Regions from separate parts of the Homo sapiens genome. Here regions 1 and 3 are each linked to region 2. Evidence: fine-mapped expression QTL. A gene starts in region 2. Each other region holds a variant in brackets. All regions are shown on one strand. Distances are between the middles of the regions.

Region 1 (10,781 bases), 110 kb before region 2:
CAGACATGAAAAAATGCTCATCATCACTGGCCATCAGAGAAATGCAAATCAAAACCACCATGAGATACCATCTCACACCAGTTAGAATGGCGATCATTAAAAAGTCAGGAAACAACAGGTGCTGGAGAGGATGTGGAGAAATAGGAACACTTTTACACTGTTGGTGGGACTGTAAACTAGTTCAACCATTGTGGAAGGCAGTGTGGCGATTCCTCAAGGATCTAGAACTAGAAATACCATTTGACCCAGCCATCCCATTACTGGGTATATACCCAAAGGAATATAAATCATGCTGATATAAAGACACATGCACACATATGTTTATTGAGGCACTATTCACAATAGCAAAGACTTGGAACCAACCCAAATGTCCATCAGTGATATACTGGATTAAGAAAATGTGGCACATATACACCATGGAATACTATGCAGCCATAAAAAAGGATGAGTTCATGTCCTTTGTAGGGACATGGATGAAGCTGGAAACCATCATTCTGAGCAAACTATTGCAAGGACAGAAAACCAAACACCGCATGTTCTCACTCATACGTGAGAGGTGAACAATGACAACACTTGGACACAGGATGGGGAACAGCACACACTGGGGCCTGTCTTTGGGTGGGGGGTGGGGGGAGGGATAGCATTAGGAGATATACCTAATGTAAATGATGAGTTAATGGGTGCAGCACACCAACATGGCACATGTATACATATGTAACAAACCTGCACATTGTGCACATGTACTCTAGAACTTAAAGTATAATAAATAAATAAATAAAAGGTCTTATTTTAAGTGATGAATGATGCCTCCTAACAGAACAACCAGCAGAACACTAATTAATGCATAGGCTTCTTGGCTGGTCTCTCTTATAAACATTAGCCCAAGTTCTGCTTTCAGCCACCACACATCTCTCTCTCCTGTGGTTCCAAATCATGTAAGTGATCCTTCTGCTAATAAACTCTCTTTGGCCTTGGGCTGGGCACACTGAGTCCTGGCACCCACTCCCTGGATGTCCCCATAGGGACATGTTCTATATGCAAAAATGGTGACGATGAAAAAGGGCTGGGACTTCATGGATTTTGGTTTGGTGAGCTGTTACCACTCCTCTGGCTTCTCCTGACAGAGCCTTCACTTAGCAGATCATCACATTTCACCCTTCAGAGCATGAGACTTGTACTAATGCTGCAGCACTACCCAGCAGGGAGCCAGCTTTCCCATGGTCACTGGATGTGTGTGGTGTTCCACAGAGCCAGGGCTGCGCCAAGATCTTCAGCTCCAAGTAAAATCTTGGAGACCTTTGCCTTAAATGGTAATTACTCTGGCAAAGGTCCTTTATACCTTGCTCTAAATGTTATCCCACCCAAAGTAGAAAATGACTTGTGGAAAGTCTTTCTTGTTTTAAAAAATAGCTATAGCTATAGTAAGGGCATAGCAGCTTTAGAAATGGAACACGTATATTTTTTATAGGCCATTATGAAATAAACTTGCAGTAACTAATTCTTTCTCACACCCATTTGCCTCTTTCAGAGACCCTGCAGGATTTAACATCCCAAACCAAATATACTGTTATGTGTTCCCAAACTATTTTTTCTCAGGGCTAAAGGGAAATTCCCATGAAGTGCTATTTTTCCAGAATGTAGCCCCCTGTCAATGCCAAAGAGAATACTTTAAAAATGATATTTCTCAATATTAGGGCACATTATGGATACAAAATCTTAGCCCAAATCCCCTTGGTCATATAAAACATGTCACATAATTGTATTTTCGGTTAGGAAGGAGTGTTACAAAATAAATATTTCCCCATTAGAACATACTGGGAAATGTTTGCTGACACCTACACTCAAACCCAGCAGGTTCCCTTGGAAGAGTTTGGCAAAGAACAGGCCCCTCCTTAATGAGGTGCTGGAGTTGGTTGAAAATTCAATATTAATTTACAAAAAATGGTTGCATTTAAGAAGTCAAAACTGAGGCCTGCTTGTGGGCGTCTGTGCCTTCTGCATTCTGGGTCTGTGAAATATCCTGGGTCAACCGAGGATCACTGTCCTTGATTGGATTGCATCAGTCTTTCTCTTTCTAAAGCAGTCTGTGGAAAACATCAAGAAGGGTTTTGTTTTGTTTTCTCAGAATTTTTTTTCCTTTCTCTATTTCTCCTACTGGAAAATTCTTACCACAATTGTTGATGGTTGTTTCATTTGATTTTAAGAGATGCATGGCCGCAAGGGCCGTGGGAGTACAAATCAATAGCTGTGATCACTGCTGGATCCTCTTGGAGGGTTTTCCCCTTTTTTGCCTGTAGCACACAATCTACATAGTCCTTGAGGGGAGCCTTACCTGGCCTGGTTCGGGCTTTTCTCTAGCTGCCAGATTGAAGTGTGACAACCACAGAGGTGGCTGTGGGGCTTTTGCTCCTCTCCTCTTGTCCCCAGAAGATTTAGAGTCCGCATTCTCAGCTACTCGGGTGCTCTCAGTTCCAGATCCAGTCATTTCCCCTCTAGCTCCCCTGTTCTTAACAGAGTCCCTCTCCATACTCACTCACTCACTGACTCACTTAATTCACACAATACTTTGTCTAGATCTGTGACCTTAATTTGTAAGTGCAGTGATGGTTGCACATTAGTTATTATGCTGGTCCTTCCAACACAAACTGCATACATTTTCATCCTCTAAGGTCCTAGAACTATTTTTCTGCACTCTAATGCTGGAATTTCAAGACACCAAAACAAAACAGGTGGGATTTAGAGGCAGGCTGGCCTTGGAGGTGGTCTTTCAATCACAATCCGCTCTGACTGCTCTATTCAGATCTTGGGAATGAAGTTTCGACAACATCTGGGACTGAAGTCAGTTTACATATTTTGATACCATGTCAATCCAAAAGGAATTCTTTTGGAGGTGTTTGGGTTTGAGGTACTTGAGCAAATGATTCTAAAGTATATTTAAGAGAACAGATATGTGAGAATAGCCAAGAAAATTTTTAAAAAGAGAATAAGGGCAGGGTCCATGCTTGATTAGCTATGAAAACACAGGAGTTCCCCTCCTGCTTACTATAAAGAAAGCTTAAAATAGTGTCTCTCCCACCCTAACAACAACAATAAAGTCAGATGACCAAAAACCCATACCTTTTCTTGAGTCCACCAGAAAGCTGAGATCACACGGAACCCAAAAGCCTGAAATCTAAGGAAAGGCTGCGTCCCCAAGAAGAGATGTGGCTGAGTATGGGAAGAAACACTGGGTGCCATACAAAAACATAAAAAGAATTCATCTAAAGCTTTTAACAAATTACTAAAGGCCAGAAGCAGACTAGCATGAGTGTAGCACCCCTGGGGGCTGCAGACACAAGAGGAATTGGTGCCCACTTGCAGGCTCTTCTCCACTCCCTTCCACCTACTGATTGAGAAAGGACTGAAGGCAGGGTGGGAGAGCAAAGAAGCCTCCCTGCACAGTGCAGGCCCAGGAAAGAGGGGCAACATTGCTGAAGGAAAGGCATAAGGCTACAGCCACACCCTCCTCCCACCTAAGCCACTGGGGAGGGACAGTACAGCCTGTTGCAGTCAGGGCACAGGTGAAGACCTACTGCAGCTTGGGGAAGGGGAAAGCCAAAACACCCTTGATCCCTGGGGAACGGGCAAGAAACAGTCCTGAGCCCCAGATCCAGACATTCTCTCCTGCACATGACACAAGGCAGGGTTCAGCTGCCACAGGAGGAGGAGGAGGAGGGGCAGGATTTCTGAGAAAGCCTTACTCCTAAGATCCAGGCATACAGGGCCTGCCAAAGCCTGAGAGTGTACTAGGATCAAGCGCACCCCTGACTCCCCAGCACTAAGTAACAAGCAACAACATTCTACCCCAAGGCTGAAGACTTCTCATTAAATATTAAAACTTCTGAAATCTTGAAATTGTTTAATTAATTGAGTAATTTAGCCCTAGCATAGATTAAGGAGACATTAAGAAAAGTTCAGAAATACAGAGTTCACAAATTCAAACATACTTAAGAATTTAGTAACTCTGAAGAAAATGTTAGCTAGTACCTCGTACCTTAAAACAAAATTAGTTCTATATGATTATTTTATTAAAAAAAAACACATAAGAGTACCAGTAAAAAATGTAAATACTGTTACCATTTTGGGACGGGAAAGTTATTTTGAAGTATCAACCAAAGACAGAAACTATAAAGCATTGTTTAATAGACTATATACAAATGGGGAAAAAATTCAGAATAGAATAAACAAAGCAAAAACACAAATAAAAATTGGGGGAAAATAGCAATATACATGGCCATTATACCTTAATATATATGATGTATAGATCCACAGATGTTAGACAGATAGATGCCTTAATATAAAAGGAGAATCATTTGAACCTGGGAGGTGGAGGTTGCAATGAGCTGAGATCATGCCACTGCACTCCAGCCTGGGTGACAGACAGAGACTCCATCTCAAAAAAAAAATTATATATATATACACACACACACACACATATATATATATATATATATATATATATA[TATAC/C]ATACACACACACATATATATATATACACACATATATATATATATACTTATATATATAAATATAAATAAAATTATGAGCTCTTATAAATTAAATAAAAAGTATGTTCCTTTCCCTCAAAAGAATTATGAACAAAAGACAATAGCAGTCACTCACAAAGCAATAATCACAAACAGCTAACAAATATTTACAAAGTCACTGAACATAAGTAATAACTCAAAAATTTCACAAAGATAATAATCTAAGTTGGTAGTATGCCTGGAAATCAACATTGTCATAAAGGCATATGACTGATGGTAGTATAAATTGTCACAAGTTTTTTGAGGGAGAGGTTAAGAAATTTGGCAGTATGAATCAAAAACCTGAAAAACGTACCTACCCTTTGATATAGCAATTCTACATCTAGAACTTTAAGGAAATAATTAGTTAAAATCCAAAAGATTTATATGTATAGATATGCATAGCAGTGTTGTTTATTATAAATAAATGTTAGAAGCAACCTAAATGTCCAGTCATGGGAGATTGGTTAAACAGATTACAATAAATCCCTATAAGTTAATGCCAGGCAATAATTAAAATGATTAAATAGAGCAACATCATGGACATGGAAAAATGTTGACAGTATATATGTTTAAGTAATAAAGTAACAGGACAATATAAGCAGTATAATGCCATTCCCATTTTTTAATACATACACACACACACACATGCGCGCATGCACACACACACACACATTGTTGATAACAACAGAAGGAATAAACTCTGGATATCAGGTAGAAAATAGCCTTATTAGAAGGTAGCTTATAGACTCAACAATAAGGCTGGTGAACTAGGGTCGGCAACAGGGCAGGAACAAAGGGTGGTGAGGCAACCAAGAACACAGCCAGCTCATATCATGGTCCAGCCTGGTAGTGTTATAAACAAAATCCCACCATCCCCGGACACAAACCTCTGCATTGAGGGACTCCTGATTCAGCTGTCCTCATGAGAAATCTCCAACAGCCACCTGTATAATTTCATTACTTCCTTGAAATTTGAGCCCAGCATGGGAGCACCTGATCGGTCAAGACTCAGTCATATAGTTATACCTCCCATGAAATAGAGAGAAGAAATATCTATCTGGTCCCTTTAGCTTGCTGGTAAAGACATATATTTTGAGATTCTCCTCCAATACTGATAATGTTTGAATGCTGGATAGTCAGAAAGCAAGAATGATAACTCCATAAATACACACACAAACACAAACACACACACAAACACACACACATGGAAAACTGGACATTCATAACATGTCATGATTAAGAATTCACATATTAATTAGGTCGGGTTTTTTGGTGATGGTTTGGGATTTTTTTTTTTTTTTACATAAACAATCCTATTGTCAGTGAGTAGGGACTATTTCATTTTTTTCATTTCCAATCTGTATGTTCTATATTTCTTTTTATTGCCTTATTGCACTGGCTAGGCCTTTCAGTAAAATGTTGAACAGGAGTGGTATGAGAGGATATTCTTATCTCCTAATATTAGGAGAAAACATTCAGTCTTTCAGCATTAGGTATAATATTAGCTGTAGGGTTGTTTTTTGTTTTCATTTTTTTAGATGCCCTTTATCAGCTTGAGGAAATTTCCAATTCCTATTTTGCTGAGAATAACTATCATGAATGAATGCTGACTTTTGTCAAATGCCTTTTCTGCATAAATTAATATAATCATGCAGCTTTTCTTCTTTACGCTGTTAATATAATGGAATAATTATTTTATTATTTAAAAATTAATTTAAAAAATCAAACTTGCTTTCCCAGCATAACCCATTTGTTCATGTTGTATTCTTCTTTTCATAATTTCTAATATTTTGTTGAGTATTTCTGCATCAATGCTCATGAGAGATACTGGTCTATAGGTTTCGAAACTGTCTTTATCTGCCTTGATATCAGGGTAATGCTGGCTTCATAAAATGAATTGAGATGTTACCCCCTCTTTTATTTTCTAGAATATATCGTATATAATTAGTGATAGTTCCTCTTTAAATGTCTGGTAGAATTTTCCATTGAAATATCTAGACCTATTCTTGTTTGTTAACTGTTGAATATTTCAGAGGCTTATAAGTACAATTCAATTTCTTTAATATATATCACTATTAAAATTGTATATTTCTTCTGGGGTGAGTTTTGATCATTTGTATCTTTTAAGAAATTAATTCATTCATCTGTGTTGTCCAATGTATGGTCATAGAGTTGTTTATAGCATTCCCTTATTATCTTGTTATTGTCTATGGGATCTGTAGTAGTTTCCCTCTTTCATTCCTGATATTGGTAATTTGTATCTCCTCTATTTTTTGTCAGTCTGGCTAAAGGCTTATCAATTTTATTGATATTTTATAAGAAATAGGTTTTGGTTTTATTGACTTTATTGTTTTTCTGTTTTTCAATTTCATTGACTTCTACTCTTATGAACACTTTTTTATGATTGCATTTTATCTCCATTATTTGATTTATAGTTGAGAAATTTTTTAGTTGTTGTCCTAGCATTTACACAATACATCTTTAATTGATCAGAGTTTACCTTCAAATAATATACTGCTTCATTCATAATGTAAGGATCTTAAAATAATTTCTCCTCAATTCCTCCCTCCCAACCTTTGTATCATTGTTACGATACATTTTACTTTTACCTATCCTATACACACATAATACATTGCTACTATGTTTACTCTTGACAGTCATTTATCTTTTAGGATCATTTAAACATTTTACATGTATCTTAGTTTACCTTCATTTAATCAATTTCCAGCGCTCTTCATATTTTTGTGTCTTTAGTTACGCATTTCTATCTTGTTTCACATTTCTCCTACCTGAAGAACTTCTTTAACATTTCTTCTCAAGTACATTTATTGGCAATACATTCTTAGTTCTTGTTTCTGTATTCCTGCCCCTTCCTTGGGACAGAGAGGTATTTTGTTCTGTTCTTCCCTAAGTTTTGCCAGTAGACTAAAGGAAACAGTATTTTTCCCTTTCTCCTGTAGATTAAGGCTTTTTTTCTAGAAAGGAGAAAGGGTGGGGTTCATGCCCCTTTGCAGTGGCTATTTTCCCTTTCCCCCATACCTGCACTGTGAGGGATTCTTTCTCAGGACTTTGGCCAGTCTTTTCTGGTGGGATACAGTGCCTGGTGGAGTCCATGGAGAAAAGTCTCCAAGAAGGTGCAAACTCCCTCTACATATGCATTCCCCAGGGTCTCCATACTCTCACCAGTCCTCACTCATTCGCCACCAATTCTTTACCTACTCCTGCTGAGTTCTTCTGTTGGCTACATCTGCTCCAGGTAAGCAAGGGCTTGTGTCCCATGCTTCTTCATAGGCCTCCTCCAGTCCTTAGATTTTTAGGCTAATTGGCTGCCCTGTGACCTCAGCTCTCCAAAAAAAGTAGTAAACTTGCAGTTTGTCTGGCTTTTTTTTAAAAGTTTAAGTGACACTCTTCCTAGACCTTCACATGCTGAGATTTTATTCTCTTTTCACCTGTCTAGCCCACAGGGCCATTTCATTCCTCAATAGCTTTTCACACCCACAAGAATGCCTTGTGGTGTAGAATTGGATAGAGATAGTAATAAGCTAACAAAAAAGTGTTCCTATTGCCCTGGAGGCATCATCCTCCCAGGGGAGAACTCTATTTTGTGAAAGGTCAGATGTCCAACTGAGGAATAAGCCTGGTCTCTTGGCCCACTCTGGGAAGGGCCAGTAGCGAGTCTAGCTTGCAGAGAGGGCAAAGACTCTAGCAGCATCCCCATGTTATGTCAGGATTTCCCTCTTTGGAGCTATGGGGACAGTGAAGATTGTGTTTTAGCTTGGGCAGGTGAAAATAACATGGTTGAGAAGCTTCATTTATTGGAAATAGGAATGAGGAGCCAGAAACAGAATCTCATCTTACTGCATACTGTGTACCTATTTAGGTGTCTGAGCTGCTCTGGCCTCCAGATTTGACTTCATTCCCAAACGAAAAGGAAGAAGGGAAAGAGATGCTCCATTCACCGGTTGTATGTATGGGGCCTCTACAGCAGGAGACTGTGAAGTAAAAGTTGAAATTGATTGACTGGTTGTTTATGAAGAGCTAATGAAAACCTGACTGAGAATAGGTTGGTACACGGGTCTCTGTCTCTGCTGCACTGTGGTTTTCAAGGTTTCCTGGACTTGGGAGGAGGGCATAGAAAGTTGCTGGGCAAATCGCACAGTCTCCCCTATGCTAGACTCAGAGCTGCCTTCCCTAGTAAACATCACCATTTTCTTGCCTTCAAAGATTTCAATGCTTTGTGCGTATGTATCAATGAAATTGTTTACAAATACTGCTATAGAAGAGCAACCTTGTTTCCTTACTGGGTTATCGCAGTCCATTCATATCTGCATCCAACATGTTGCCTCAAAATACCCCAAAAAGGCAGCTTTTGTTACCTATGCTTTACGAAGAGGAAAACTGAAGCTCACAGGGAATGATCAGTCCAAAGTCACTCACCTTCTAAGAAAAGGAAATACCCTGGAGTAGCACTAGGGTACCCAGGTGGGTTCACATGATAGGGAGGGACACCGGTAGCAGGGAGACACTTCCAGTGACAGATTTTCTTGCCTTTGTCACTAAAACCTCCTGTTGGCATCTAAGCCTGGATATCCATCAGGGTCCCAACAAGAAACAGATGACTTCCCAAAAGGAAAGCTTACCAGAAGGACTTACACACTGTAATAAGCAACATTTAGGGAAATCCCCATGGAATAGTAAGTACCACTGTATTAGTTTGCTAGAACTGCCACAACAAAATACCACAAACTGGGTGATTAAACAACATCATTTATTTGCTCACAGTTCTGGAGGTTGGGAAGTGCAAGATCAAGGTGTGGACACGTTTGGTTCTCCTGAGGCCTCTTCCCTTGGCTTGTAAACAGTTGCCTTCTTGCTGTGTCCTTGCGTGGCCTTTCCTCTGGGTGCACATCTCCATGGTATCTCTTCCTTTTCTTACAAGAACACCAGTCACATTGAATTAGGGCTTAATGGCCTCATTTTAATTTAATTACTTCTTTAAAGACCCTATCTCCAAATACAGTTGCATTCTGAGGTCCTGGGGATTGGGGCCTCAACCTACGAATTTGGGGTTGGAACACAATTGAGTGCATAACAGCTAATAGCAATGAAGGGGGCTACCACCCTATGACTGAAGGGGCAAGAGGAGGTGGAGGTTTCCAGAACCCAGAACCTGGCAAGCATGGCTACACATGGGGAGGGCCACCTGAGGTGTAGTCTACCCACAGTGGCCTGGCAGGCAGGGAGGAGGCAGCAGACACCTTGACCTCACTTTCCTCCCTCTGTAGGCTCCCACTGGTGCTGCTCTCTGGCTGAACCCAACAGGAAGCCAGGGGCAAGGGAATCCATTGCTACAGTCCACTAGGTGAACCTCTGGGCTCAGAGCAGGAGGAAATGGTAGAGGGCCAAGCTCAAACTATTTGGTGTGGCTTGCAAACCAAACTCTTAAGTTCTGCTCTGAAGTGATGGTGATTTATGAGAGGCACATTTGATTGCCTGGTTTTTTCAATTATTCCCGGATATGTTCAAAGGTGAGAGGACACTGAGAAAACACTGTGTCTATAGGGTCATTCTGAGGAAACACTGTAATAAAACAGCCTTTAGAGATGACTTCCCTAAGGCTAGGGTCAGGAGTCCCTTCCACAGGGCTCCAGTGGACAGCAGAGAAGGCCCCTGTCCTGGAGTGCAGGCAGAGGCAGCTGCATGGACAGAGGCCCAGAGGCATGATCCCTGCAGTCATGAGCAGGATGTGGCGTGGTGACTAGAAAGGGCCTTGAGGAGAGGGGTAGAAACCTAGGGCAGGCCTGACCCTTCTCTACTGTTCATCTGAGCAACGTGGAAGGCACCTACAGGCGTCTGCAGGTGAGTCTCTGCTTCAGTCAAGCAAACAGGAATTAAACTACAATGCTACTACGGGGTAATGAGTGCTGCAGAAGCACACTGAAGGGGCACCTAAGCTCGGCATGAGAGCCCAGCAAAGGGTTCTGGGAGTGAGTACTCCTCTTGGAGGAAAAGTAAGAGGTGGCCAATGAAAAGGAGTGTGCCCTTCACTTGACTAAAACAGAGACTCATGGAACAAGAAAGCCCATTTGCAGAGACCCATCATGGCAACAGGTCTTGGTACAAGTTAAAAAACAAAATCAAAGCAGTCAACAGGACTAAAGACATTCTCTGAATTTCCAGTGAGTAAGTAGGCTCACTGGAGCTGTGACAGGCAG
Region 2 (10,781 bases):
AGGATGCTTTTATGAACAACCTGTTACTTTAGGATTAATATTTGTACTGCTTCCTAGTATTTTCATCTGTCTGCACATTCACCCAAGCCCCTTGAGAGCAAAGGCGTGCACTGGATGGCCAAAGCACTGTTAGAAGTTGTGGCTATAAACTATGAATCCTAAACTAGATTTGCATAAGAATCACTTGGAGGACTTGTTAAAAACATATCTGGCACTGGCTGGCCAAAGCACTGGTACAAGTTAGAGCTATAAACTATGGATCCTAAACTGGTTTTGCCTTGTTAAAAACATATTCTTGAGTCTCACCTCAGATTTTTGAAATTAGAATCCCTGAGGCTTAGAGCTCTCTGTGTATAAAAAGATCTATGAGTATTTCTGATGATGGACAGGTTTTAGGAAAACAAACTAGAGCAGTGGCTTCAGAATTATTCTGAAGAGTCTTAAAATTCTTAAGAAACATCACTGGGCTTCACTCACCTGTTTCAGCACAGAATAGTCTCACTGATATAGTTTGGTTTGTCAGACCCCTCCAAATCTCATGTTGAAATCAGATCCCCAGTGTTGGAGGTAGGGCCAAAGGGGAGGTGTTTGGGCCCTGGGGCCAGATCCCTCATGAATGGCTTGGTGCCTTCCTTGGGGTAATGAGTGAGTTTTCACTTTTATTAGTTTCATGAGAGCTGGTTGTTAAAAAGAACCTGGCATGCCCCTCCTCTCTCGCTTCCTCTCTTGCCATGTGATCTCTGCATATCCTAGCTCCCCTTCACCTTCCACAATGAATGAAAGCAGCCTGAGCCCCTTACTAGATGCAGATGGAGCAGAAAAGCCCCTCATAAGAAGGGCCATGCTTCTTGCAGAGCCTGTAGAACTATGAGCAAAATAAACCTCTTTTATTTATAAATTATGCAGCCTCAGGTATTCTTTTATAGAAACACTAAATGAATTAAGAAATCCATTTTTATCTATTTTGTGTATCTACTTTTCTTCTTAAAATCTGAACATCACAAGGCCAGATAAAGCAAAACGAACTCATCCATATAAGAATTAAACCCATGATTTTGGCATCAAAGCTGACCTAATCCAAAGACAAAAGAGACTAGACAGATAAAAAGACCAGGACTGATGAACATAGAATATTTGTTAATGACAAAAGGAAAATCTTAGAAAAGCACTTCTATAATTCATATACTTTTATTTACTGGATCCTAAAAGAACTTATTCAATACATGACTGAATTGCATAATAAAATTCCAAATGGGAAAAAGTATATACACAAATATATTGAATTAACTGCACATACTTATTTCTCTTAGGAAAAAACTACCCTATTCTAGACTTGCAATTAAAAATACAAAATGTGTCTAAATAAATTAAAGCTTTGTGACCTTACTTCCTACAATCCTAATTCTGCCATCCCTACCTCTGACTAGCAGGCAGATGGGGGCAGGGAAGGCAACAGTAGCTCTGAGAAGGTGTTCTCTCCTTGAGAAAATGATTTCTCCATAAGCATAAGGTTTGGATCCTTTGAACACCTTTTAGACCCTCCCATGATCTACTCTACTCCAGAAAATTAGGTTGTGTTGTGGAGGAAAGCAGGTAAAAATGCTAATTACCTCCTCCCATCCTGTGCTTGGATATTCCCCCACAGTATTGGGTCTGTATATCCTGGTTTTTCAAATTCTCCATTCCGATCACCCTATCTAATAAAAATGTATGCTCACTGGATATTAGATTTGAGACATCCAGTTCTATATGTAGATACAAACTCAAGAGACTCCTTTATTAAATGAAGCAGCATAACATTTTTACTCACCTGTCTGAATACACATACTAAGCAGAAGATGGACTGAGTAAGAAGCCAGGAGAGCAACTGTCAGCAGCAAGAAGCTAAAACATAAAAGAACACCTGGTCAAAACCTCCCAAAAGTTTGTCTTTTGTATGGTGTCTCATTACAAAAACAAATTGCTTAACAGTCAAATATTCACAGGAACTATCTCTGAGTAGCAGAATTATGTTCATTAAGGAAATTAAGAAGATACTTTTCTACTTTTTTGTATTTACCAATTTTATTTAAATGAAAATATACTGATTTTAAAATAAAAAAAAATAAAAACCAAACTTTTTTAAAAATACAAGCAAACTTCCTCATTTTGCAGTCTTGTCTGCTGACTGCTGAATCAGCCATTAAATAATCTTGTAATATTTCCTTTTTATGACTGGTTTTCTTCTTATTTTAAGTCTAAACAGAAGTTTTACTTATGCAATCTCATTGTCTTCTCTTTTTCCCTTCCTCCCTCTACTTCCAGTGATATTGACCTCCTTATCATACCTTCATCTTATTAAGGTGTACTTAAGATTTATTTAGGCTGTATTTTCTAGCATCTATTAAACGCACACACTCTCCAAACCAAACTAAATTAAAATAATGTAGTTAACACACCTCTAATGATGCAATTTGAAAAATGTGCAAACAATGTAATGATTGAGGTCCTCTCACCAACAGTGTGAAAGAAAAAACTTAGATAATTTCCTATTCATTTTTAGGAAGACACCAGCAGGACAAGCTTCTATACAGCTATCCCCAGTGAACTGCCCCAGTCATTGAAGAAATTTTCTCTCTGTGGTCCAGTTAATACTTGTTAATAAATAAAATTGAGAGGTAAAAGTACAAATGTCATTAAACTGACATCAGGAACTTCACAAAATAACACTTTAGCATCACCAAAAATGATGGTTGCTATGACTGGGTGAGCACACATTCAGCAGTATATATCTGCATGTAAGACCCTGGTGCATAAATTATGATTTTTCAAAGAGAATCAAAAAAAAAGTCCTCTGACTATGTCTTGCTTAAGGTGTCACATATAGTTTTTAATTTTAAAAATAATGAAAGTTTGTGAGTACATTCCATAATAAAAGCAAGTTGGGTTACTTAAAAGTTGCTTTGCTTATCAAAAAATTTGGAATAAAAGCAGGAAATAAACATAAAAGAGACTCCCTAGGCATTTTAAATTTCCTAGTAAATAGATCTGCTTCTACTGACAAAGCCAATTTGTTAATTCATTCTATTAGCCATGTGGTGCTAGATGCTAAGAATAAGGTCCAGTTATAAAGGATTTTTCTATTTTTTAAATTTTTTAGACAGGATCTCACTCTGTCACCCAGGCTAGAGTGCAGTAGCCCAATCATGGCTCACTGCAGCCTCAACCTCTCAGGCTCAAGCAGTCCTCCCAAGTAGCTAGGACTACAGGCGCACTCCACCATACCAGGCTAATTTTTGTATTTTGGGCAGAGATGGGGTTTCACCATCTTGCCCAGGTTGGTCTCAAACTCGTGGGTTCCAGTGATCCGCCTGCCTTGACCTCCAGTTGTAAAGGATTTCAGTTTAGTGGGAACATTAATTTCCAAACATATCATTGTAACAATTATAATAACAGAATGAATATACAAAGTACTATGAAAGCACAGAATATCCAGGATTGTCTTCTATTTTGGGCAAACTGGCCTACAAGCTAAGTCCTGAAACATAAAAAAGAACAGGCACAAAACACATGTCTGGCCTCTGAAAGTGAAATAAGACTACTTAACAATACAAAGAGACAGCGAGGAATGAAAAGATTATGTGTTGTATTTGCACTCACAAAATTGCTATTTGGAAGTTAATCTGCATGGCTTTGATTCACTTTGGCCAAGGAGATACAATGAATATGCCACTCTTAAGTGTCATATTTCATTATAAATGAAATGTGGATCAAGTTCCCATTTTTAAAAACTAGTCACACTTCTGTGTATTTAAGAAGCTATGTAGTAGCCCTCCAAGGTACACACTAGCAACAAGAATAACAAGAAAAATGCTAAAACCCCAGAAATAACTAACTAGAAATTGTATAATAGCAGCTTCTGGAATCTATCTCTCTACTTCTCCGTATATTATCAAAATGGAAAAAAAAATTTGATGCTAAAATATGAAGACTCACCTAAATCCAAAGACACCGGTATTAGCCAAAACATAAGCTAAGCCAAGGATGCCACTTCCCATGATGGCATTCATCAAATTAAACACTGATAAACCAAATGAAACACCTGGGGATCGCTGTCTGTGAAGTTCCTGTAAGCACACAAATTTAGTAGTGTTAAATGTTTGGACGGTGAAGTTAAAATTTCGTAAAGAAATTCCATAAATGAAAGATTATGGAAAAAAGCTGCAAACCACCAGGGTTTGTATGACACACTCGTTGCTTAACCAACACTAATTTCCTTTCCTTTCCTTCCCACCTCCCACTACTGCAGCTCCAGGAATCTAGGGTTTCTTAGGAAAATGATTTCCACCAGTACACAAGACAGGCAGAGTTCAGGAAGGGCCATGACTAACCTTGTGACTGCAAGAGATGAAGATAGGATGGGAATGGAGTGGGGAGAGAGAGGAGGGATAAGGCCTCAGCTCATGTGATTACTAAAGAATTGCTGAGTCAACCTGGGACTGCTGTGGGCAGTTGTTTCTCCTCAATTACTAGGACTGCACAACTAATCTCTACTTATATATCTAATGAATTAGTTCTACCAAACTGGAAGGATGGTCAGGAATATCTTGCAATGACAATATTATAAACAGAAGCAATTCACGTTGTTCTGGCAGTATCCCTGAAAACATCCCCCTCCCCACAAACAGCACCGGGAACAAAGTCCTGGGAACAGTGTCTAGGACTCGAGTTAAAAAGCGGAGTGCCCACTGCACAGGCTTTAGGGTCAGGAACGTGCTATGCACTTACTACCAAGCCACTTCCATTCTACCGCTAAGAATTTCTGTATTAAAATGTTTATTATTTTCCCTCCCCCCATGACTAAGTCGGAAGAGGAAAATCCTGTGACTCTTGCAAAGACCTCACGAGACTGGTGGAGAAAATAAGGTGACAAAAATACTAACTAACAGCAGTGAGTACATAATCCTAGGGCCGCTCATCCCATCATGTTCGCAGCTTCCACTCAACGCTGCATCTCTTCCACCCGACGCTTTTCATCTTTTCTTTCTAGAGTATGCTAGGCTGCTATCACGTTCATAACTGCGCCAATCTCATCTGAATCTCGGCGGCTGCCTTCAGACCCCATCCCCCAGGGTTCAGGCTCCAGCATCTCCCCTGTCCCGGTGCGGTCCTCCTTTTCTGGGTCTTATTTGGCAGGCACTTGAGGGAAGCCGGAGGGCGTCAGCGCGGGGAAGCGAACACAGCCCACTTACGTTGCTTAGCAACGGACTCAACTCTTCGGCCTCCGCTTCTTCAGGCTGCTGGACAGAGACATACCAGCCCCGCTCAGCGTTGAAGCTCCCCCAGGACGCCTCCATGCTGCTCTCCAGCTGACTACCAGTTCCATCTACGAGCCTCTACCCCTGCCCTGCGCTCCAGTCGTCGGTCGCGCCAGAGGCGGAGCTTTGAGCCCGGCCCTTCCGGCATTCCGTACTTCACCAGGGCCTGGAAGGAGAGGAGCGAGTCGACTTGATCTGATGACGCGCGCCCTCTTCGCGGCGAACAGTGATGATGTCATAGAAGACCCGCCCATCCACCCGCGACCCACATCCGATCGGTACCGGAGCGGGAGGTGAGGGGTCGGCTCGCGGATCCAGCTGCAGAGCGACGTGGGGAATTGGAATGGTGCTTTGGTGAGGTGGCGGCCGCGTTAGGGGCTAATGGTCCAGGGGAGGTACCAGCCCGCCCAGGGCTGCTCTCTGCCATGTGCTGCCTGGGCACAGAAACATCGCGAGGTCACCCACCCGCCTAGGTGCTGAGCTTAGTTTCGAGGTTCTGGATAGTAAGGAATGTTTCAAAAGCCTTTCGCCACATTTTACTGGTGGGAAAACCGAGACTTATAGTAATTTATCCAGGGTCACCCAGCTGGTCAGCTGCTAGAACCAATTTGATCTCTGACGGTGAAGTTAGACTTCGTTGCTTTACAGGATTCTGGGACAGGGCCCTTTCCCCTTACAAGTAAATTCTTTGGTATTTTAGAAGACAGTGAATAACTGATACTATGCATATAACAATCAGCAAAGCTCTCGTCCTCAAAATACAGAAGCCTCTAGTTAAAGGCAGGACATGTGGCAGTAAAGCATCGAAAACAAACAACAGAGCAATATATTAAGAACACAAGCACCGAAGTCAGTCAAAACTAGGTTTTAATCCATGTTTAGCCACTTATCAGCTGGGAGACTTTGGGTGGGTTACCTTACGTCTGAGCTTTAGTTTACTTATTTACAAAATGAGGGTGCAATACTGCACACCTCCCAAGATTCATAATGTACATAAAGCATTTAGCGCAGTATCTGACACAATAAGCACCCATGAGACTATCCTAATAAATATCACCACTAGTAATGGTCATGTATAATGACTATTTCATTTACAGATGACCATTTAACTCATACTTCAGTCTTCCAATCCCAAATGTATTATCTAGAAAATTGTGGGTGAAGAGGATCATTGAGTATGGCTAATGGATCACTAAGCCCTCTGAACTGGGAGCAGATGGGTTGAAGGTGTAAATTTAATATATACCACTATTATCTACCACTAATACGACTTCCTGAAGAAGTCATCCTAGTCTGGAAAAGATAGTATACTTCCCACACATCACTAAACGTTTTATTTGTCAGCATTTAGCCCGTTATTTGAGATAGTAGAATTTAGATTTTTATTCTCAAAAGCTGTCGTGTGTGAATTTTTTTTTTTTTTTTTTAAGGATCTTATGGAGGCCATTTGGATTCTCAGGAAGATTTCTGAAACTGGAAAGCCATAGCATAACTGAATCAAAATCGTTGATTCCAGTAGCTTGGACATCCCTGACACAGATGCTTTTGGAAGCACCTGGTATTTTCTTATTGGGTCAAAGAAAAAGATTCTCAACCATGCCAGAAACAGAAACACATGAGAGAGAGACTGAATTGTTTTCACCACCTTCTGATGTCCGAGGCATGACAAAACTTGATAGAACAGCTTTTAAAAAGACAGTCAACATTCCAGTGCTTAAAGTGAGGAAAGAAATAGTCAGTAAATTGATGCGATCCCTAAAAAGGGCAGCATTGCAGCGCCCAGGCATAAGACGTGTGATTGAAGATCCGGAAGATAAAGAAAGTAGACTAATCATGTTGGATCCCTATAAAATATTTACTCATGATTCCTTTGAGAAAGCAGAACTCAGTGTTTTAGAGCAGCTTAATGTCAGTCCACAGATCTCTAAATACAATTTGGAACTAACATATGAACACTTTAAGTCAGAAGAAATCTTGAGAGCTGTGCTTCCTGAAGGTCAAGATGTAACTTCAGGGTTTAGCAGGATTGGACATATTGCACACCTAAACCTTCGAGATCATCAGCTGCCTTTCAAACATTTAATTGGTACGTGTGTCATAGTAATATTCATGTATTTGAAGGGAATTTGCAAATTGTTAATTTTAGCTTTAAAAATTATTTTTTTTAATGCCAAGTTACAGAGGCAGAACATTTTATCATGTTAACTTTAAGCTAGATCTTGAGCTACATACCCTCTTTTGAGGGCCATTTTGAAATATCTTCTTTAGTCATAGCAAGTTCCAAATACTGGTCCAGGCTTTTGTGTACAACAATACATCAGTGTAGATTAAACTTGAATCACATGCTTTGGCAGCTACATTGAGGAGAGATCTTTTTGGTACACAAGACTTGTTAGGCCTTCAGGGCTATGTTAAATACTAGGTTTCATAAATTTGGGTACTTTATAGTCAAAAGTGCAAGATGTTTACTTATGCTTTCATTGATTCAACCAATTGAGCCTCTTCTATATGTCAAGCACCATACTGTCCTGTTACACATTTCTTTTGTTTTTATTGATGAAGGGAGTAATAATGGATAGTGGTAACATAAATACTTAAGCAGATCCTTGTAATTGTGACTGGGTACAAATGTCAAGTCTAGGCTTTCCTGTGAGTCACTGCCTACCCTAACTCAAACATTCCTCTGGCATTCCTATTTTATAAACTTTCTTTCATAGAGGCACTCATACATTAAAAGTGAAACATTTTCATACAGTAGTAATTTTAAAGCTTTTACTATAGACCTTCAGAATAGTTTTTAAAAATTTATAAATTTCATTCCTCATTTCAAACTAAATTCTGTACCTTAAAAGTTGAGTTCAGATACATGAAGCAGAAAGGGTAAGAACAATGATTAATTCGTTTATTGATACTATATTAAAAAACAAGTATCTGATTATCAGAAATGGGACAAATGCTGGTTGTATTTCAGGATATTGTATAATTGGGTACTGTGTGCTGATTTACAAATCAAGTTATGCAATGAGATAGCATATAGATTTTTATAACTTTTTTAAAGTGCTAACTAAAAAAATAGATTCATCAAATGGCCATGAGTATGCCAGTTCTGTAGCTTTTTTTGCTCTGAAGTAAATGAACATTTAATTTAGATAGGACTGTAAATAATCTATGTTTCTTTTTTTTTGGAAACATTGTTTTGCTGGCATATATTTCTAAAGTGGGGGCATTTGTTCCAAAGCCATAGTAAAACAGACATTTGGCTTGAGGCCAGTGGAACCGGCAGATGTTTTACTGTTTTCTGAGGCCATTTGTTGCCAGGGTCCTTTACATCTCTTTCCATTCTTTCCCAATTCCTTGTGATCTACCTTTTTGGTTCCTTGTTTATTGGTTCATTTGAAAAGATTTAGTAAAACATGGAAAAAACATTAGGTAGACCCAAACTCCTCAAAACGTTTTCTTTAAAAATGTACCCAACATTTTGTGTGTGCATATTAGCAACCGTCAGACATTAACTTTAGTCATCTGTTGAATTTTTTAAATTGCATGCCACATTACACACAGTAGGTGCAGTCTTTATCAACCAAAAGAAATACAACTCATTTCTGTTTCATATTAACAATGTTAGCTTTTATTTTGCAACCAATAGGCAGTATTATGGATTTTCATTTTTTCTTTTAGGCCAGGTTATGATTGACAAAAATCCAGGAATCACCTCAGCAGTAAATAAAATAAATAATATTGACAATATGTACCGAAATTTCCAAATGGAAGTGCTATCTGGAGAGCAGAACATGATGACAAAGGTATATTTTATTATCTCCAAGTAAGGTGTATATCAATATTATGTTTAGAGTCAGAATAGATGACAAAGATTTAAAATACTTGTAACATCCAGTGTTGGTGAGTATGTGAGAATGTGATCACTTATGTATGCTATTGATGGAATAACACTGATAAAGCCTTTTCAGAAGAATTGGTTAAATTCTCATATAGTGATACAATGGAATATTTCCATCATTAAAGGTTTTTTAGCTCCATATTTGTTAAAATAAGTTGTCCATCGATAGGTTGACAATGGACAATTGCCAGAAAGCAATATAAGTGACAAAAAGCAAGTTATAGAACAGTATGTATAAAATAGTTCTCGAGATATATTTAAACCTTCTAGGTTATACCCAGAAAGACTTTTAGTTGGCAGAAATTTGCAGAAACATTTCCACCTCTGTAACCTTAATAATTTGGCCGGAAGCATCTGATATGGTTGGGAGAAGGAAAAAAAATATACATACAAATTGGGAATTAAGGTCCTGGAAAGCAGAAGATGGAAGATGTATCTATCTATGAGATTTATAGAACTTATGAACTTTCTGGCCTTTGATTCTTCATGCATAAATTAATGAGTTTAAGATGATGGCTGAGGTCATACTTCATGACTGTAACTTAAGTTTTATTTTCTGTTTTTTAAGGTGTCTACTACAATAGACCCAAAAGAAACGTTAAAAAGTCTTTTGTTCAAGAATTAGCTTCACTGTATATATTTAGTTTACCCATGAAAACTCAAATTTGGGAAAGAGAATCTGGGAATGATTCATTCTATACACTGGCTCTAATTTATAGACATCAAATTTGCAAAGTTCAAGTAGCTGTCGAAAAACATAGTAAAATACCTCAAAATTGAGTGACACATCTACCATGGCTCCCTTTTACAAACACAAAACTAAATAAGGAGGGAAGCTTGTTTGCTGCATAGAAGTACTGTCTGCAACTTGGCTACCCAGCATGAAGATATGGGTGGTGTGTTGTTTCAAAATTGTAGGTCTTGCCTTGTCTATCTGGTGACATAAGAGTATAATTAAGCCAGTTAATTGGCCTGTCTGAAAAATTCCTCATGTGATATGGTAACTACTTTATGGCCATGGCCCTATAGGATTGAGATGGAGAGCCATTTGGCTTTAAAGAGATGACTTTTTCTCACGAATAAGTCTAATGCAGTATATTAACTGGCCTTAGGAATAGCATAAACACCAGGAGTCTAATTAAAATGCCTTTAAATGCACTGTTGTTTGGCTCTTACAGTAGTAAACTTAAATGTGTATGTGTTTGCCTGTGTGTATACACAACCTATCCAATATCAATGGTTAGGATTTAGGACCAAGGAAATTAACCAAAAAGCATAACACCTTTTTTCAGGTTCGAGAAAACAACTACACCTATGAATTTGATTTTTCAAAAGTCTATTGGAATCCTCGTCTGTCTACAGAACACAGCCGTATCACAGAACTTCTCAAACCTGGGGATGTCCTATTTGATGTTTTTGCTGGGGTTGGGCCCTTTGCCATTCCAGTAGCAAAGAAAAACTGCACTGTATTTGCCAATGATCTCAATCCTGAATCTCATAAATGGCTGTTGTACAACTGTAAATTAAATAAAGTGGACCAAAAGGTGAAAGTCTTCAACTTGGATGGGAAAGACTTCCTCCAAGGA
Region 3 (10,781 bases), 140 kb before region 2:
CCCCCCAAAAAGGGACAATAGCTGCCCCCTTTTACCTCCCCAGGTGGGCTACATGTATCCCCACCACCACCCTTCATCACCCTCAGAATCACATCCCTGCTCACACACCTGCAATGCCTCTTCCATCTGGCAAACGCTTGACAATGCTACTAGGCCCTCTTTGAATGTCCTGACTTCTGGACCTCCCATGACATCTCTCATCACCACCTACCAGAGAACCAACAAGAGCACTTCTTTCCTTCATTTGTTTAGTAAACAATTATTAAGCCTCTACTATGTCCCAGATGCTGTCAACACAGGAGAACACAACATGGATGCAACCTCTGCCCTCATGGAGCCAGTGGATTAGAGACACAATACACATAATAAATAAGATGGTTCCTTCAATTCATGTTTTCAAGGAAATAAACAAGAAGCTGAGAGCAAATAATGCAGTTTAAAGTACAGAAGCTGCTATAAAGGGGGTGACAGAAGAAGCCTCTGAGGAAAGGACATTTCAGCGGACACTGAAGATGGAAAGGAACAGGCTGTGCGTGGTACAGTGGGAGGAGCGGTCCAGACAGAGCGGGAAGTTTGTGCAGACAGAAGATCAGGGAACAAGGGGGACAGGGACCCCTGTGTGAGGGGAGGGGAGCACATGGTCTTGGGAAGGAGGTGGGTAGAAGTCTCTGCCCGGGTGCACTCATCCTTTGGCATTTGCCTCTCCCTTGGCAGGTCTTTCATATTCACCTCATTGGTTTACTGCCCTGGCCTCCACACTGAGTATGAGCCCTTCCAGGGCAGGGCTGCGTCGCATCCTGTGTGCATCCTTGCCCATTCGATGAGTCACAAGTAGACAAGCTGCCTATTGGGCCCTGAATACCTGAGTAGGTTTCATACCTGCCTGGCCTATCCCCTCTCCCTCCCTTCCAAAGGTAAACCAGAAGTCCCTGCTGGCCCCTCCTGTAGGAGAAGGGGATGCAGAGCCAAGTGGCTGGAGGAACTGGCCTGACTTTCATCCTGAGATAACCCTGGTACCTGAGACACAAAGTCCACAGGCTTGGAACTGCTGCAGACTCTGGGTGCTTTTCCAGCTGCTGGTGATACCAGGGGTTCTCAGCAAGGCTGAGCACCTTTTATGGACTCCCCCTGTCTTGCATGCCTGCCTGGAACTTGTGATCAGTTTCTGTCCATTGTTTAGAAAGTGTTACCATATATAATAGCTGCTAAGAACAAAAAATGACATGTGCTCATCAACATAGGATTAGATGTGTGGCAACCAGCATTGATCAGATACACACTTTCCATTTCAGTTCACCACGTGTTTCGGTGTCAGGCACAGGGTTGCCAAGAACAATGTGGCCCCTACCTTAGAGAGACTATGGTCTGGTGGAAAAAAAAAAAAACAAAAAACCAAACAGATTTGTGAACAATTAAATCGTAGAAAATATTTTATTTTATTTGCTATGATGTAGACTTCAGTTCAGCTTACAGATAATCAATTTTACCTGGGGAGGAAAGGAAGAGTAGGGGATATTGGAAAGGTTTCCATGCAGGAGAAAGTGAGTTCACATCAACCAAGCAGGCAGGAGAGAAAAGGCCCTTCAGGGAGAGGGAGCAGTGTGAGCAAAGAAACAGGAAATGGTATGTTTGTTGCATTAACTGTAAGAATATTTGACAAGGTTTGAGAGTCAGAGGCCAGGGGCAGCAGTCAGGCTACGGAGGGATTTGTGTGCTGGGCTCAGGAGCTTGGGCTTGATCCCACTGGCATAGGGAGCACCGCTGAAGAGCTTTAGGTAGGAAAGGGGGTGGTAAGGTCATATTTACCTCAGGGAGAGATTGCTGGACTGGCAGTGTGGAGACTGGAGGAGAAGAGTTCAACTCAGGAGGCCAGGCAATTAGTCCTGGCACAAGTGAGAACTGTCACTGGGCGTAGCCAGGGGCTGGGAAAGAGGGAAGATTCTAGAGGCCTGAAGGAGTTGGAGTCAGCAGGACTGAATGCTGCATTGGAGATGGAGAAAGAGGAGAAGTGAGGGGTTAAGGCCAGGCTGTCAGGGTTCTCCTGCAGGAGACAGTGAAAACTTTCATGAGGCAGAATGTAGAGGAAGGAGCAGATTTGGCATCCAGTTTGGACAGCTTGAGTTGGTCATACTCAGCAGCAGACTTAGATCCTGGCAAGGGGTCTCTTCCATAGGCCCCACATTTTGGGGGCTCCATTCTAGCCCTTCCTGGGTCATACCACTTTCCATGAGCAAGACAAGTTAGTGGGACCATGGAGACGGGCCCACCTCGATCCAGCAAGGCCTTCTTCTAGAACTTGCTCCAGGTAACAAGCCTGGGGGTGCCCAGTCCAATGACCCCAGCCTGTAGCTTCTTCCCGGGTGTGTCCTCTGAAAGATGGCCCACATTTCTGATGTGAACTCCCCAGCTTCCAGCAGTGGCCAAGTGGCAGTTTTCTGGTGGGGTGTGGAAATGCAGCTTGGATGTGCAGCCTGGGTTGTCCACATATGTACATGTGTGCAACTCCTCTTGCAGTGGGACAGAGTAGGGGTTTGGAAGATAAGAGGTCTCCATTTATCTCCCACAAATATGAGGGACAGACCTGGAGACAACCTGCAGGGTTATCTGAAATCTTCTCTTTTCCAGACTAATTATAGTATCAGCCCCCTACCTTACCTAAGCTGATCTGACTCCATTTCCAGACCCCTCATTGTCCTGTTACCCTCCTTTGAATTGACTCTAAATTTTACGTAATGAGGAGGCATACAGATAGCTTCTGTATGAACTCTACAGTCAGGGATAACCGGAGTATGTGGATTCAGTTCCACTTGCTGCATCCCCAAAGGCACTGATGGAGGCAGAGGTGACTCCAGGATACCTTAGCGGGTGGGAGAGATGGGAGCTACCTGGGGAAGGGTTTGGAGCTGGCAAGATGTAATTCAGAGGAGCAGATAATGAGAAAAGGATGGAGAGAAAGGCGTAAAGGCATTCAGGACTTGCCTTTCATAGGATTCCAATAAAGACAAAGGAAGGGTCTGCTTTGCTTTCAAGCCTGTGGTCCTCACCCAGACTCCCCTGCAGGGGCTCCCCTTTGTCTCTTTCATGAAAGCCAGTAGGTCTCCTTCACCCTTTTTCTCTGCTCTGATTACAACACAGAGCCTTCTCTTTGGGAGCAATAGCCATCTGGATTATCTTCTCTTCGTCTGGCCACCTCATCAACTCATCATCTTTTTAATAATCTCATCTGAAAACATATCCTTTCTCATTTGCTTCTTAATTTCCCCATTGTCCAGTGACTTTTCTCTCTCTCCCTTTCTCTGAAACCTTATTCTTATTACTTTATAGAACACTGGGGGATAGATTGCCCAGAAAATATGTACTATAAAGTAAATGCATATGGTGATATCTATGAATTGCCCAGATCCAGTCCATCTGTGCAATGTCACAGGCCCAGCTGTTTACTTGTGCACAGTGCAATTGCAATGGCTTTATGACATGGGCACTGGCTTACAAGCTACTCTGGTGCTGGTCAGGAGCTTCATGTGCACAGTTAACCTTAGATCACTGTGATTAATCAGAGTGCAGCCATGGTAGATCACAGGCTAGTCCCCTGGCAAGGCCAGCAGGAGCACTCCTCCAGCCTGAGCAAGCGGGGAGCAGATTTTAATTCCAGGCTGTTAGGTGCTGCCTGACATTGGTGTCCCTGTGGTGTTTCATAAGCCCTGACAGTTCCTCACCATTGTTTTAGGGAAAGCAGGCACTCCTCTCACTTTACCACCCCATTGCCTTCCCTGGAAATGAACACTTTCTCCCCACTTTGAATCTTGTGCCAGAAGGAAGGAGGGGAAATGACTGCACATTCCAAAAAGGTCAAAGATGGTCTGAAAGCAAAGGATGCACGCGTCTGCATCATTTCCAACAGCCCTTTGCAGTTCCTTTTAATTAGCTCAGTTTATGTTCCCCTCAGGTGGGGAGAAGCCCAGGATCACTCTGTCAACAGTTCTATCTATAGCAGAACCCCCATCCTTCACCCCGGCGTCTCCACTTGCACAACACTCGCTGACCCCGAGACTCAGCTGTGAGAATCAATCATCTCCTTCCAGAATTCATCATTCAGCAGCTGCGGGGCCTCAGCTATTTTTATCACCGCAGGAAGCTGGTGGCCAAGGACGTGCTGGGCTACCTTTGCAGGAGGTGTTGCTGTAGAAATGAGCTGTGGGTTGTCAGGGCAGCTGAGCCTCTGCCTCAAGGTTAAATCCAAAGTGCCTGACCTGGAACAGGAGAGCACTTGATCTTCTTCCATTCTGCAGCAAAGTGCCCCAGAGGCATATGCTGGGGAAGCAGATGTCCCAAGGAGGGGACACTGTGGAAGGACTCCGGATGGGAGGGAGAGGCAAACAGAGTGGACATGTGTGAACATGTACCTGGGTTTCTCCTACCCAGACTGGGAAATGGGATATCTTAACCCTAGGCAGCTGGCTTCAATCACCTGCACAGTACCAGCCAAGGAATTCCCACTTTGCTGTGTTCCCACCAACCACCAACCCTTGTGGGGCGCCTTCTATGTACCAGACCCTGGACTGGGGCTGAGGCTCCAGGATCTGCCCTGGAGTTGTCTCGAGTCTAGAGGAGAGGACAAATCAGACGCAGTATCACCAAACCCTGATGGCCACTTGCTCCAGTCACCCCAGGTCCTTTGCTGTGTTCCAGGGGAGGAAGCCATGGGGTGTAACAGCAGGTAACTCGGAAGGATTTTCTATTTGTAAATGTTCATCCGATACTCTAAACAAGCTCCTTCAGCACAGGCCTCTGAGATAAGGCAGTATTTTTAGTTTATTTAGAAATCATCTGGCTTGTTAGCTGTGCACATGTGTGCTTTGCTCACAAAGTGGGAAAAGCAGAACTCACTAGCATCCTAACAGAGAGAAGAGGGAAAGATGTCCCCGATTCCCTGGACATCTCTCATTTCAGAAAAGGAAAGGGGGGTAGTACTCGAGGCTCTGCTGCTGTGAGCCTCTGTAGCCTTTAGGAAGGGGGAAAGTGACCCTATATTCTCTGCTGGAGGGATGGGGGGATGGGGAAATGGAGGCTGTTCATCTCTTCCAAACTCCAACTGTTATAGGAAAGCGGTCCCAATCCAGATCCCAAGAGAGGGTTCTTGGATCTCACGCAAGAAAGAATCAGGGCAAGTCTGTAAAGTGAAAGCAAGTTTATTAAGAAAGTAAAGGAACGAAAGAATGGCTACTCCATAGACAGAGCAGTCCTGAGGGCTGCTGGTTGCCCATTTTTATGGTTCTTTCTTGATAATATGCTAAACAAGGGGTGGATTATTCATGCCTCCCCTTTTTAGACCATATAGGGTAACTTCCTGATGTTGCCATGGCATTGGTAAACTGTCATAGCACTGGTGGGAGTGTAGCAGTGAGGATGACCAGAGATCACTCTCTTGGCCATCTTGGTTTTGGTGGGGTTTAGCTGGCTTCTTTACTACAACCTGTTTTATCAGCAGGGTCTTTATGGCAGGGTCTTTAT[G/T]TGCTGACCTCCTATCTCATCCTGTGACTTAGAATGCCTTAACCATCTGGGAATGCAGCCCAGGAGGTCTCAGCCTCATTTTACCCAGCTCCTATTTAAGATGGAGTTCCTCTGGTTCAAACACCTCTGACACAATGACATAGAGAGAAATGAGTCTGGGTGGGTCCAGAAGTCCAGTTCCCTACTGAGCAGGGGAGAAGGCCAGTTTGCCCACCGCCAACCACATCTGCTGAGGACAAGCTAGGGGTATTTGCTGAGGGGTGCCTACCCAAGGGGCCCTTCCTGGTTATAGAGGTGGAATGAGAGCTACCCCAGGGAAAGTTGCAGGGCTTGGGGGAAGAATTTGCTTTGAGCACTGGAGCCAGTGGGAGCCAGGCTACGGAGAAGCACCGGAGGTCCTGGGAGGTTTATCAACTGCCCCAGGGCCCTGGAGTCCCCCAAGGCCAAAAGCTCCCTCACACCCTGGGCTCTCTGTGGCTGTGACTCTGACCAGATATTTTACTGACCTAAAATAGTCTCTTCCACAGACAATGTCAAGTTAGCAAACTGTTTAAAGAATAAAGTCACTCAACACTCTCATTTAGAGCTTCAGAGTGTGCAAATTGACATAACCTTTCTGGAGGACAATTTGGCAATTAGTATGGGACCTTAGAAATATTCACACTCCTCGAGCTAATAATTTCTGCTTTGTAAATTTCCCCAAAGCAAAGAATATCCAAAAATAGTGGAATGGAGAAATGAATGATGGTGCATCTTTTTGATGAAATCCAGTGCTGCTAAATATTTAATGATATGGGAAAGTGCTAAAAGTGTAACGCTCAATTTAAAAAGGCAGAATAAAGAATGTATGTAGAGTATGATCTCAAGATTTTTGTTATTGTAACAGTTGCTATAAGAACGGTCCTTATTTAAACAAAGTCCTTTATAAGCAACTTCCTTGCATTAGAAGGAAGACCATAGGGGAGGGGGGCAAAGAAACAGAAGAGATGCTTTGGGGGCCGCTGGTGGGGAGGGCTGGGGGAGGGGCATGGAACCAAGGGGGAAGCCAGGAGCCTGGAGGTGTGAGTCTGAGGCCTCCCAGGGTGAAGAAGTCACAGATACTCTGCCTGGTAGCTGCCTGGAGGACACAAAGATGCCTGGTGTTTTGGCTGCTACTGTGGTTTCAAACTAACTCCAACTCCACCCCCTCCTAAAATTTTCAGTGAAGTCCACCCCATCAATAATTGATCTGTGTGAGTGCAGATTTAGGGTAGAAACCCAGGGTAAGACGTACTCTCCATCTGTGTTCATGAAAAACGGAACAACACCAGGAAATTAGCTATAGAAATCCATGCTTGGGGGCAGGGGTGATCCTGAGGACTGAAGACCCCATGGAATTTCCAGAAGGCTTGGGGAGGACTTTAGACTTCTAGAGGGCATGGAACAGGGTTGAGCCTCTCCAACAGTGTGAGAGGCTGGGGAATCCTTACTGATATCCAACATGGGTATAAATGGGCATATAGGCATATACAGATACAGGGCTGGAGGAACAGTGCCAGTACCCCGTGGCACTCCCTGGCAGTGGGATTATGGTGATATTTATTTTCCTTTTTATATAGCTTAGAATTTCAAATTCTTGTAAAACAAACACCGATTTTATAATTTTTTTTTAAGAGTCAAAGTTTCACTCTGTTGCCCAGGCTGGAGTGCAGTGACACAATCATAGCTCACTGTAACCTTGGACTCTTGAGCTTAGGTGATCCTCCCACCTCAGCCTCCCAAGTAGATGGGACTACAGGTGTGTACCAGCATGCCTGGCTAATTTTTTTATTTAGCCATGTCGAGACAGGGTTTTGCCATGTTGCCCAGGCTGGTCTCTAACTCCTGGGCTCAAGGGAACCTCCCACCTTGGCCACCCAAAGCACTGGGATTACAGCCATGAGCCACCGTACCCAGCCAGATTTTATAATTTTTTAAAAACTAATAAATGTAGATACAAAGCACTGCCATTCCATGTTGCTTGTAGAGTCTGTTTCTGCCTCTGGGTTGGTGAGAAGACTGTGGGCCCAGATCCTGCCATGGACTCAGACTCTTCATGTAACTGAGGTCAGTGCTGGGATCCAGGGGCCCTGCCCACTCACTAACACACCAGAGATCACATGAGATCCCCAAGATGGAACTCAAAGACATATTGGACACCTTCCTGTCTGGGCTGCAGCCTGGAGCATGCTATGGGTCCCAGAACAGGGTCCATGAAGAGGAATGTATTTCCCTGCAAATTGAGGCACGGTTGCAGTTGCTGGAAGGACATAATCAACGATGGCATCCTGGTTTCTCTGCCTCCCTTTGAGCTTCTCTGTTTATGCACATCTCCTAAAGGCTTGCAAGTCAAATGCCATTTCTTGCTGGTTTTTGTCTTTGAGTATCTTTCCTCTCCTAAAATAGAGCAGAAGCCTACAATGCAGGGTTAGTTTTCTTTCCTCCCTTCTTTTGTTGAAGGGAAATTCTGCACATAATACATAGAGAAGAAAATACAATCAACCCATACGATCATTGTGCTTTTGGGTGGACAAGGCAAATATTTCTGTCTTCGATGACAATACATATTTGTAATATCACACTTGGAGCTTTTCTGCCGTTGCCTATGTGGGGATCTGAAAGTGTTTTCTACTCAGCCATTCATCTTCAAACCATCTTTCAGGAAAAAGACAGGAAATTGAGAAAAATTATTTGCAGGCTTATTTTTCTGAATGATGCCCTCAAACGTTTTTTGACTGTGGCCCAACTCAGGCTTGGCAGAGGTCCCCACAGCCATCTCCCTCTGCCTGCCCCCTCTTTCCAGAAGAAAAACAAAACTCAGTGATAATAAAGAATATTAGAGGAACAGACAAGAACCTCTTATTTACTTTATAAAAATATTGTAAACATTATATACATGACTTTATGCTATATTGTTCCTTATTACTCATTTTGCATAGTTTATTATAATTATTTAACATAAATATTTTTATGTTGTATTCTATTTTATAATGCAAAACAATATTTTAAAAGAAGTTTCGTAATGCTTAATGTTTCTTGGTAGGATTCAAGTAAATAGCCTTTGGTAGGGCTTAATAATGTTTACAGCATTGGGCATGGTTTGCACATAAGATCTTGGCATTTGAGATTTCGTAATCCCTGCTCAGCCCTTCTAAGGAAGGAAACCGCCTCTCATATTTTCTTTTGCCTATTTGCCTAATTTCTCCCTCAAAGAAAAGAAAAAGTAGGAGTTAAAGAAAAGGCAGAAGTGAAATTCAATAGTCAAACAACCCGGCACCACACCCCAGGCCTGGTAGTTAAAGATCAACCCCTGACCTAATCGCTTATGTTATATATAGATTCCAGACATTGTATGAGGAAACATTGTGTAACTCCCTGTTCGGTTCTGTTCTGTTCTGACCACCGGTGCAGACAGCCCCCGTCACGTAGTCCCCACTTGCACAATGTATCACGACCCTTTCATGTGGACCCCTTAGAGTTGTAAGCCCTTAAAAGGGACAGGAATCTTGACTTCAGGGAGCTTGGTTCTTGAGATATGAGTCTACCAATGCTCCCAGCTAATTAAAGCCTCTTCCTTCCTAAAACTGGTATCCGAGAGGTTTTGTCTGTGACTGGTCCTGCTACATTTCTTAGTTCACGCTACATTTCTTAGTTCCCTGACCGGGAAGTGAGGTGATTAACGGATGGTCAAGGCAGCCCCTTAGGCAGCTTAGGCCTGTCCTGTGGAGCATCCCTGTGGGGGACTCCAGCCCTGTGACACGGATCCTGAGAGCACTCCCAGTAGGCCATCGCCCAGGTGGAATGCTTTGCCAGAGCAGTGCGCGGCAGACCCCCATGGAGGATTAACACAGCGGCTGAACACTGGGAAGGAATCCGTGCTTGGAGTCCTGACATCTGGAACATGGTAAGACCGGTCTTGGAACTTGCCCACTCCATCTGAGTGGAAGCATGGCCTGATCACCCACGGTGTGCCGTTATCAGCACTTTGGTTTTGGTTTTGATTTTGACTGGATTTGAAATGTTTTGGTTTTGATTTCAGTTCTGACTTTTGGATTTGAACTGTTTTGGCTTTGATTTCGGTTCTGACTCGGCTCAAATTGCTTGATGAATGAGTAACTCCTTATCCGTCCTTTGGTTTTAGATTTAATTTTGATCTGGTGTGAATTGGTTGGTGAGTGAGTGACTTTTTGCCCCTTTTCCCTTCCCTCTTTGTGGTAAGAGTGTTGTTTTGTCTGCTGAGAGAGGAAAATGGGTAAAACACAGAATAAGCCTACTCCGTTAGGAACTGTGTTAAAGAATTTCAAGAAAGGATCCAATGGGGACTATGGAATTGCTATGACACCTGGAAAGCTTAAGGCTTTGTGTGAGATAGATTGGCCGGCATTAGAGGTGGGATGGCCATCAGAAGGAAGTCTAGACAAGTCCCTAGTTTCAAAGGTATGGCACAAAGTAACTGGTAAATCAGGACACCCAGATCAGTTTCCATACATAGATACTTGGTTGCAGTGAGTTTTAGACCCCCCACAGTGGTTGAGAGGACAGGCAGCAGCAGTGTTAGTGGCAAAGGGACAGATAGCCAAGAGGGGGATCTCGTTCCACCCGCTGAGAGAAGTCAGCTCCTAAGGTTCTGTCTGACCCAACATCACAGGATGCATGGCAGGCAGTGGCACCAGTGGTGCCCCCCCTTACCGAGAAGAGAGACTCCCCACTCCTGAGCCCACAGCACCTGAGCCTCCACAGGACACACACACCCCTAGACCACCCAGAGTAGACAAGAGAGGAAAGAGAGAGAGAGGCAAAGAGGCAAAGAGAGAGAAAAAGAGAGAGAGAACAAGAGACAGAGAGACAAAGAAGGAGTGAAAGACAGAGAGAGAAAGAGAGGCAGAGAGAGAGGAAGAGACAAAGACAACAGGAAAGTCAGAGAGAGAGACAGAAAGTCAAAGACAGAAAGAAAGAAAGAGATATACAAATAGTTAAAACAACAACAACAGTTTACCCTATTCGTTTAAAAGCCAAGGTAAATTTAGAAACTTTAATTGATAATTAAAGGTCTTCTCTGAGACCCTACAACACTCCAATACTACCTTGTTGTCAGTGTAAACAAGGGTGTAGCCCGAAAGCACTGAGGCCACTGACAATCCGTAGCCTTCCTGTAAAAATCCTTAATCCAGTACCCCTTGGATGGCCTAAATACATTCAATCTGTAGCGGCAACAGCTTTGCTAACAGAAGAAAGTAGAAAAATAACTTTTA

Which allele goes with the higher level. Alleles are on the strand shown, and positions count from the first base shown. SD is a standard deviation of normalised expression in the study named. Not every link is listed here.
For the expression in monocytes after LPS of the gene that starts at base 5,369 in region 2, TATAC is the low allele of the variant in region 1 and C is the other (large effect, 1.2 SD a copy in Fairfax 2014).

The links. PIP is the estimated chance that this variant, and not a neighbour inherited with it, causes the effect. A credible set is the group of variants that fine-mapping cannot tell apart.
Region 1: its variant is the best candidate, but not a certain one, in a credible set for the expression of SLC38A6 in monocytes after LPS (Fairfax 2014, PIP 0.67).
Region 3: its variant is the best candidate, but not a certain one, in a credible set for the expression of SLC38A6 in whole blood (TOPMed, PIP 0.51).

What each region holds. Positions count from the first base shown.
Region 1 is chr14:61,082,266-61,093,046 of GRCh38, reverse strand. It overlaps a transcript of SLC38A6 not described here. Among named protein-coding and RNA genes, the nearest start is that of SLC38A6, 110 kb to the right of the region's middle. RefSeq lists enhancers at 2,318-2,457, 3,521-4,022. The variant TATAC/C (reference allele first, on the strand shown) is at 4,503.
Region 2 is chr14:60,975,833-60,986,613 of GRCh38, reverse strand. SLC38A6 (solute carrier family 38 member 6) reads right to left here and starts at 5,369. Exons shown (of 16, transcript NM_153811.3): 1 at 5,232-5,369; 2 at 3,976-4,106; 3 at 1,811-1,884. The coding sequence starts at 5,336. It overlaps TRMT5 (tRNA methyltransferase 5), which reads left to right and starts at 5,535. Exons shown (of 5, transcript NM_020810.3): 1 at 5,535-5,651; 2 at 6,728-7,383; 3 at 8,976-9,100; 4 at 10,488-10,781. The coding sequence starts at 5,641. RefSeq lists an enhancer at 5,266-5,645 and a silencer at 8,549-8,843.
Region 3 is chr14:61,119,548-61,130,328 of GRCh38, reverse strand. No RefSeq gene overlaps it. Among named protein-coding and RNA genes, the nearest start is that of SLC38A6, 140 kb to the right of the region's middle. RefSeq lists a silencer at 3,684-3,978. The variant G/T (reference allele first, on the strand shown) is at 5,512.